Homo sapiens: one gene and its partner. The protein of the gene in region 2 purifies or fractionates together with the protein of the main gene of each other region. This does not show direct contact. Each region holds a gene or a part of one and is shown on either strand. Other genes may lie near its edges.

The links.
Region 1: the proteins of SLC35F6 (region 2) and ECE1 purify together in Homo sapiens (co-immunoprecipitation; one large-scale study listed by IntAct). This does not show direct contact.

Annotation. Positions count from the first base shown.
Region 1 is NC_000001.11:21,283,964-21,287,463, forward strand, and holds part of ECE1 (endothelin-converting enzyme 1), read right to left. Parts: intron 1-3,500. UniProt on the Homo sapiens protein: Converts big endothelin-1 to endothelin-1.
Region 2 is NC_000002.12:26,774,284-26,777,783, forward strand, and holds part of SLC35F6 (solute carrier family 35 member F6 precursor), read left to right. Parts: coding exon 1-40; intron 41-760; coding exon 761-932; intron 933-1,180; coding exon 1,181-1,393; intron 1,394-2,088; coding exon 2,089-2,199; intron 2,200-3,500. UniProt on the Homo sapiens protein: Involved in the maintenance of mitochondrial membrane potential in pancreatic ductal adenocarcinoma (PDAC) cells. Promotes pancreatic ductal adenocarcinoma (PDAC) cell growth. May play a role as a nucleotide-sugar transporter.

The DNA.
Region 1 (3,500 bases), on a different chromosome or scaffold from region 2:
CCTCACCCTGGGGCAGGAGAAGTCACCTAGAGGTACTAGGCCAGGATCAGGAGGCCTCTCCAGGGCAGGGTGGCCAATTCCTGGGTGCAATGGAAAGGGCTGGGCCGTGAGTCAGGGCACCGATCTGCTTCCAATGGCCGCTGGCCTCGGCTGAGTCTCTTCTTTGCATCCCTGTCGCACCTGCCCAGCCTCCTTCATGGGACTGTGGAGGGGATCCGTGAGATGAGGTCACAGCATGGGGAGATGTGACTGGTTTCTTACGTTTCTTTTGGAAATGAGGTCCCGTCAAGCATGGGAGACTGGCCTAAGCAGCTTGGAGGGTAGGAGGATTGGTGGCAGGCAGCCCAGTCCATCTCAGGAGAGGGGACTGTGAAATGGCCATCCGCTAAGAGGCAGCGCTGATGCCTGGAAGATGCAGAATCACTGCAGATGCTCAGCTCGCTGGTGGGCTTAATTTCCTACTTATTGTCGTGGGAGGCAGAAAGAGAATGAGAAGGAGGGGGTGCCCTCAAAAGAGAGAGGTGGAGAATGAGACAAAGAAATGAGAGAGCCAGAGAAACAGAAAGAGCGAGAGAGCTAGAGTAAGGGAAAAAGAGCAGCGCTATCCAGCCAGGAGTTCCCAGGGTTTCCACAGCCAAGGGAACAAAGCCCTAATCCGGGACACATATTTGGTTACAGAAGTGAGTGCTTGGCTCACCTAGGCTTACAGCAAGAACAAGTTCTGCAGGTGAGGATGGGGCCTGCTGCCTGGGGCCCACGAGACAAGCCGGGAGCAGAAAGGGTGGGGAGCCAGGTGAAGCCAGGTTTTCAGAGTCAGGTCGGAAGGGAAGGCAGAACCCAGCAACCTGGGCTGCACGAAGCAGCAATGGGAGTGGTCTGGGCAAGGGTCTGGCAGGGATCCCACCCCTCTGCAGCCCAGAAACCCAGCCACCTGGGAGCGCTGGCAGGGGCACCAGGCTCCCTGGAGTAAGCCTTTGAGAGCAAGTCGACTGTGACAGCCCAGCCTGCGAGGAACCCTGCCTCCGAAAGTTCCCCAAAGTCAGTTTGGGGAAGTTTCTTCCAGTAAAGTTTCCATGAGGTGGCCTTCTGGCTGAGGCAATGGGGTCAGTCCAGAGCAAAATTCTCAAGTCCTTGTGTCCTCTTGTCTCTGCCTGAGCCTTGTCTGCTACCCCACCCAGATGCCTGACTTTAAATGACTGGTAACAGCTTAAAATATGATCCGTTGTAGGGGAGGGCACTCCTCACATCTTAGCAAGAATCAAAGGCTAATATTTACAAGTACTTTCCAACTTTCATCGCTTCCCAGAAGGAACACCCAGCTCCCCACAGCATGGGAGAAAGATGGTAACCCTGAGAAGTCAAATATCCCACTGTGTGTTGCTGGGCAGTCTCTGGGCCTCAGTCTCCCATCTCTAAAATGAGGAGGCTGATTGAGGTCCCAGGTGTGACTTCTCAGACTCTCAAACCTCAAGGCTATATAATAGGCAAACAGAGTTGATAACAACTCCAGGTAAACAGACATGTCTTTTTAAAGTATTGAGCGGGCTTGTCCCTGAAATCACCCTGGAAAGACAGCTTTGGCCAGGCATGACGGCTCATATCTGTAATCCCAGCACTCTGGGAGGCCAATGTGAGAGGATCGCTTGAGCCCAGGAATTCAAGGCTGCAGTGAGCCATGATCACGCCACTGCACTCCAGCCTGGGCAACAGAGCAAGACCCTGCCTCAAAAAAAAAAAAAAAAAAAAGGCTGGGCACAGTGGCTCATGCCTGCAATCCCAGCACTTTGGAAGGCCGAGGCAGGTGGATCACCTGAGGTCGGGAGTTTGAGGCCAGGCTGGCCAACATGGTAAAACTCCATCTCTACTAAAAATACAAAAATTAGTCACGCATGGTGGCGCACGCCTGTAATCCCAGCTACTGGGGAGGCTGAGGTGGGAGAATTGCTTGAACCCAGGAGGTGGAGGTTGCAGTGAGCTGAGATTGTGCCACTGCACTACAGCCTGGACAACAAGCAAGACTCTGTCTCAAAAAAAAAAAAAAAAAAGAGAAGAGAAGAGAGCCCTGTGCAAGGTGGGAAAAAAATGAGAAAACTATAACTAAGAATTTAATATCTCACCTTTCTTTTTTTCTTAACAACAACAAAAAAAGATTTTTAGAAGTAATTGAATGAATTTCAAAGGTTTTGGTAGACATGGCCATCTGCTCCTCAGTTCAGGCTGCAGGTGTAACTTCAGCTATATCCCTTCCTGCCGCTGAAAATGGTGTATGTTCAGGTGTGGGAAGATCAGGCAGCTGGCTTTGGCAGAGCAAGAGGCTTCAGAGCAAAAGCTAGCATATTTAGATGTATATTATTATATCATGTCACTCATAGTGAGTTTCTGTAATAATCCTTGTAATAACCTAATAACCAAATCCATTTTCTAAGCATTATCCAAAATGCTTTCCCTCATACTGTCCCACTGAGCCTTTGCAACAGCTCTGAGAGGTGGGCTAATAATATTAACCCCATTTTACAAAGAAAGCTGTGGAAGTGAGTTGCTTTCAGGTCTCACAGCGCAGGAGAGACAGAGCTGGGGCTCCAAGTTAGAGCCAGCTTCCTTTGAATTCTGTGCTTGGTTCAGAGTGACTCACTTTAGTAGACTGCAAGTAATCTGTGCCTAAAATATGGGATAAAGAAAAAGAACAGGTTAGGCACGGTGGCTGTAATCCCAGCCCTTTGGGAGGCTGAGGCAGGAGGATCACTTGAGGCCAGGAGTTCGAGACCAGCCTGGGCAACATGGCAAAACCCCATCTCTACTAAAAATACAAAAAATTAGCCAGGCATGGTGGCACATGCCTGTAGTTCCAGCTATTTGGGAGGCTGAGGTGAGAGAATCACAGGTCAAGGCTGCTAGTAAGCCCAGATTGCGCCACTGCACTCCAGCCTGGCCAACAGAGTGAGACCTTGTCTCAAAAAAAAGAAAAAAAAAAAAGAAAAAGAAAAACCCTTTCAGGTGAGGTACAGGTAGAATTTTGCTCTGGTTAAATTCAACATTGGCCAGCAGGTCCAATAATAAAAAATAAATAAATGTGGCAAGTAATAAAGTAACAAATGTGTCAAGTTTGGCTGAAAAATGGAAGTGTTCATTTATTAGTTATTGGTGTTGATCACTTGGGACTTCCTAAAACGAATGGACTTCAAAATCTTGAAAAATCAAATAGCTTATTTTTTAGCTGTCCATCAAGAGAAAAGATTTGGGATGAAGGGTCTGTTTTAAAAAGTCTAAAATTGAGAGCACAGGCTGGATGTGGTGGCTCATGCCTGCAATCCCAGCACTTTGGGAGGCCGAGGCAGGCAGATCACCTGAGGGCAGGAGTTCGAGACCAGCCTGGCCAACATGGCAAAACCTTGTCTCTACTGAAAATACAAGTATTAGCCGAGCGTGGTGACGTGCGCCTGTAATCCCAGCTACTCCGGAGGCTGAGGCAGGAGAATTGCTTGAACCTGGGAGGCGGAGGT
Region 2 (3,500 bases):
AGGGAGCAAGGAGCACAGCTTCCAGCATCCCTTCCTCCAGGTATCTGGCCCTGTCCCTCCTACCTCCTGTCTCCCGGGCCTCAGACCAGGCGCCACCCCCGGCCATGAGGCCAGGCTGTTTCCTGACTTAGGAGTGGAGGTGTCTCCTGCTCCCAGAAGAGCCATCCACTTCTCTCTTTCCCTCCCCAGAGCAGAATCCAAGGTTTAGAATAGGGCAAAGAGCACCATCCTCTGCGAAAGTCCTGGCAAGTGGTCATGTCCTCACCACATCCAAGTCAGGACACGTGGAAAACATCAGCCCTAGTGACAAAAGTCAGCTCTCTATCCACTGGGAGCCCAGACCCCAATTGGGACAGGGCAGACACCATAAATGGAAGACACTGTTCGTTGAACTGAGAATCAGGAGACTCAAATGTCAGCCCCAGCTCTACCAGCAACTTGCTTTGTGGCCTTACATAAGTCTTTGAGCCTCTCTTGGGTCTAGGCTTCTCCACCTGCGATTTGACTAGGGGTTGGCCTAGATGGATGGTTTTCAGACAGGGCTCTGCACAGCCTTAGGGTTCATCAGGATGTATGGGGGCTTTGGGGCAGACCTAGGAGGCTGTCTCTAGCCTCCATGGCAGCTCTGCATTTGTCTATTTTACATATTGGGGTTCTGGGTAAGCTCTTGTTTGACAAAAGTTTGCATTAAAAAAAATAGTTAAAGATGATCCCCGAGATCCCTTCCAGCTCTGAAGTCCTCGGGTTTTCATCCCTGCAGGCAGTGGGCATGTTCCTGGGAGAATTCTCCTGCCTGGCTGCCTTCTACCTCCTCCGATGCAGAGCTGCAGGGCAATCAGACTCCAGCGTAGACCCCCAGCAGCCCTTCAACCCTCTTCTTTTCCTGCCCCCAGCGCTCTGTGACATGACAGGGACCAGCCTCATGTATGTGGGTGAGTAACCAGGCCAGGCTGAGAAGGGCTCAGGGGAAGCTGTGGCTGAAGGGGCTACTGGTGAAACAGCCCTATCCCACCCACCTCCACTTCATCCCACCATTCCCCCAGACTTCACACGCACAGGCACACAGGCAGGACTGATCGAGCGCTTACTATGAGCTTGGCATGTCTATCACCAAAGACCCCTTAGTGACAGATGGCCTTCGCCTTGGGAAGCTAACTGTAATTTGTTTCTCCTTTCCTAGCTCTGAACATGACCAGTGCCTCCAGCTTCCAGATGCTGCGGGGTGCAGTGATCATATTCACTGGCCTGTTCTCGGTGGCCTTCCTGGGCCGGAGGCTGGTGCTGAGCCAGTGGCTGGGCATCCTAGCCACCATCGCGGGGCTGGTGGTCGTGGGCCTGGCTGACCTCCTGAGCAAGCACGACAGTCAGCACAAGCTCAGCGAAGTGATCACAGGTGCGGCCAGGGGCAGGGACACGGGGCTGCCCTATCCTGCCCTGTCCTCCTTGGGAGCCCAGCACAGACTCATACAAGCTCTGCCATGTGCCATATACCAAGCCCTGGGTGAGGTGGGTAGCTCTGGAGGTGATGGATAGAATGTAGGGAAGACTGCAAAGGGATGTGGCTCCACCAAGGATGAGTGGCAGGCCGGGCAGGGCGAGGGGCTGGCTTGTCCTTTGATACAGATGCAGACATGCAAACTACTGGATTTGGGAGTGGAAAGGAACAGGTGCTTACCAAGTGCCCAGCCTGGTGCTGAGCACTGTGTGTTCATCATCACAGTGACTCCCACAGGCCCCAAACGGATGCATCACAGCCCATTTTACAATGAAATGACTGTCCTGGGTCACTTAGGGTCAGGATCAACCAAGAAATGTCTATCTCAAAGCCTGTTGCTTCTTGAAAGACCTGCGTCATACCCCGTGGGGCAGCTCTTAGACACAGGCAGGCCTCTGGGGCCTTAGCCTGGCACTGCTGGCATGCCCCTCAGGAACCAGGGAATCAGGGACAGGCAGTGGTGACTGTGCCTATGAACTATAGGGGGCCCTGCAGAGGTCAGGGGCTGGCATGTTTGGTCGCTGTGGCCATGCTCTCCTGGCCCCCAGCCCCAGTGCAGCCCTGTTCTCATCTGGGTCCCTCCTTCCCCACAGGGGACCTGTTGATCATCATGGCCCAGATCATCGTTGCCATCCAGATGGTGCTAGAGGAGAAGTTCGTCTACAAACACAATGTGCACCCACTGCGGGCAGTTGGCACTGAGGGTGTGTGTGGGCACAGGGGCCTGGAAGGAGTGGGGTAGAAGGGAGCCTGGGGAGCTGAGCACAGGACAAGGTGCCAGGGTTCACTTGTGGGGGGTGAACTTCCTGCCCCGCCTTGCCTTCCAGATGTGTTTTGACAAGTCTTCTGACACCTGCTGTGTCAGGAACTAGAGGAGACCAAGGACAGAGATGAATGAGATGCAAGCCCTTCAGAGGAGGTGACCAGCAGGAAGAAAGGGCAGTCAGTGAATTCAAGTTTGGACCACTTGTGCTCAACTGATGTCTCATTGGCCATGCCTATCTGAGTCTCTCAGGGCAGGGAGGGTGGCATTCGAGCTGCAAATTTCAACAGGCAGTAGTAGGAGCAGCTCCAAACAGAGCAAAGGCACAGGGGACTGGATGTGAATTTGAAAACCAGTGAGGAATAATTTTGAGTGTGGCCAGGTGCGGTGGCTCATACCTGTAATCCCAGCACTTTTGAGAGACCAAAGCGGGTGGATCACTTGAGGTCAGGAGTTTGAAACCAGCCTGCCCAACATGGCAAAACCGTCTCTACAAAAAATACAAAAATTAGCTGGGCGTGGTGGCGCATGCCTGTAGTCCCAGCTACTCAGGAGACTGAGACAGGAGAATCGCCTGAACTGGGGGAGCAGAGGCTGCAGCAAGCCGAGATTGCGCCACCGCACTCCAGCCTGGGCAACAGAACGAGACTCCATCTCAAAAAATAATAATTTGAGTGCAGTATAGGTTTGATGTTGGGGAAATAATCAGGAATTAAGTAGGTCAGGGTCATGTCATTAGAGAACTTTACCATCAGGCAAGTAGATTTAGACTTTAAATGACGGAGGAATCACTGAAAGTTTTTGAGCAGGGAAGTAAGTATCAAAATTATGAGATTAGCAAGATACAGCTGCGCTTTCAAAGAATGTCCTGGGGGCTAGTGCCTGTTGGGGAGCAGCTCTTGTCTGGCCCCCGGTGAGCTAAGGGACTTAGGCAGAATGTGAATTAGCTATATCACTGAGCATGCAGTCTATTTCCACTCATTTCTGTTTTCTAGCAAGACCTTAATGAGTGAAGCAGTGCATGGACTTACCTTCTGGCGCAAGCTCCTTGTCACAGACCAGTAACACACTGAACTAGAAAGCTGTGTTTTTCCAAACTTGTGAAAATAATGTAGTCAGTTGCAGCTGGCAGTTCTTTTTTTAAATGAATAGAATTTTTAAATATCAGAGCATTGTATACTGTAAGGGTAATGTTTTTATGAGTGTGTGTGTGTGTGTGTGTCCATGAACCTGTGCACACGT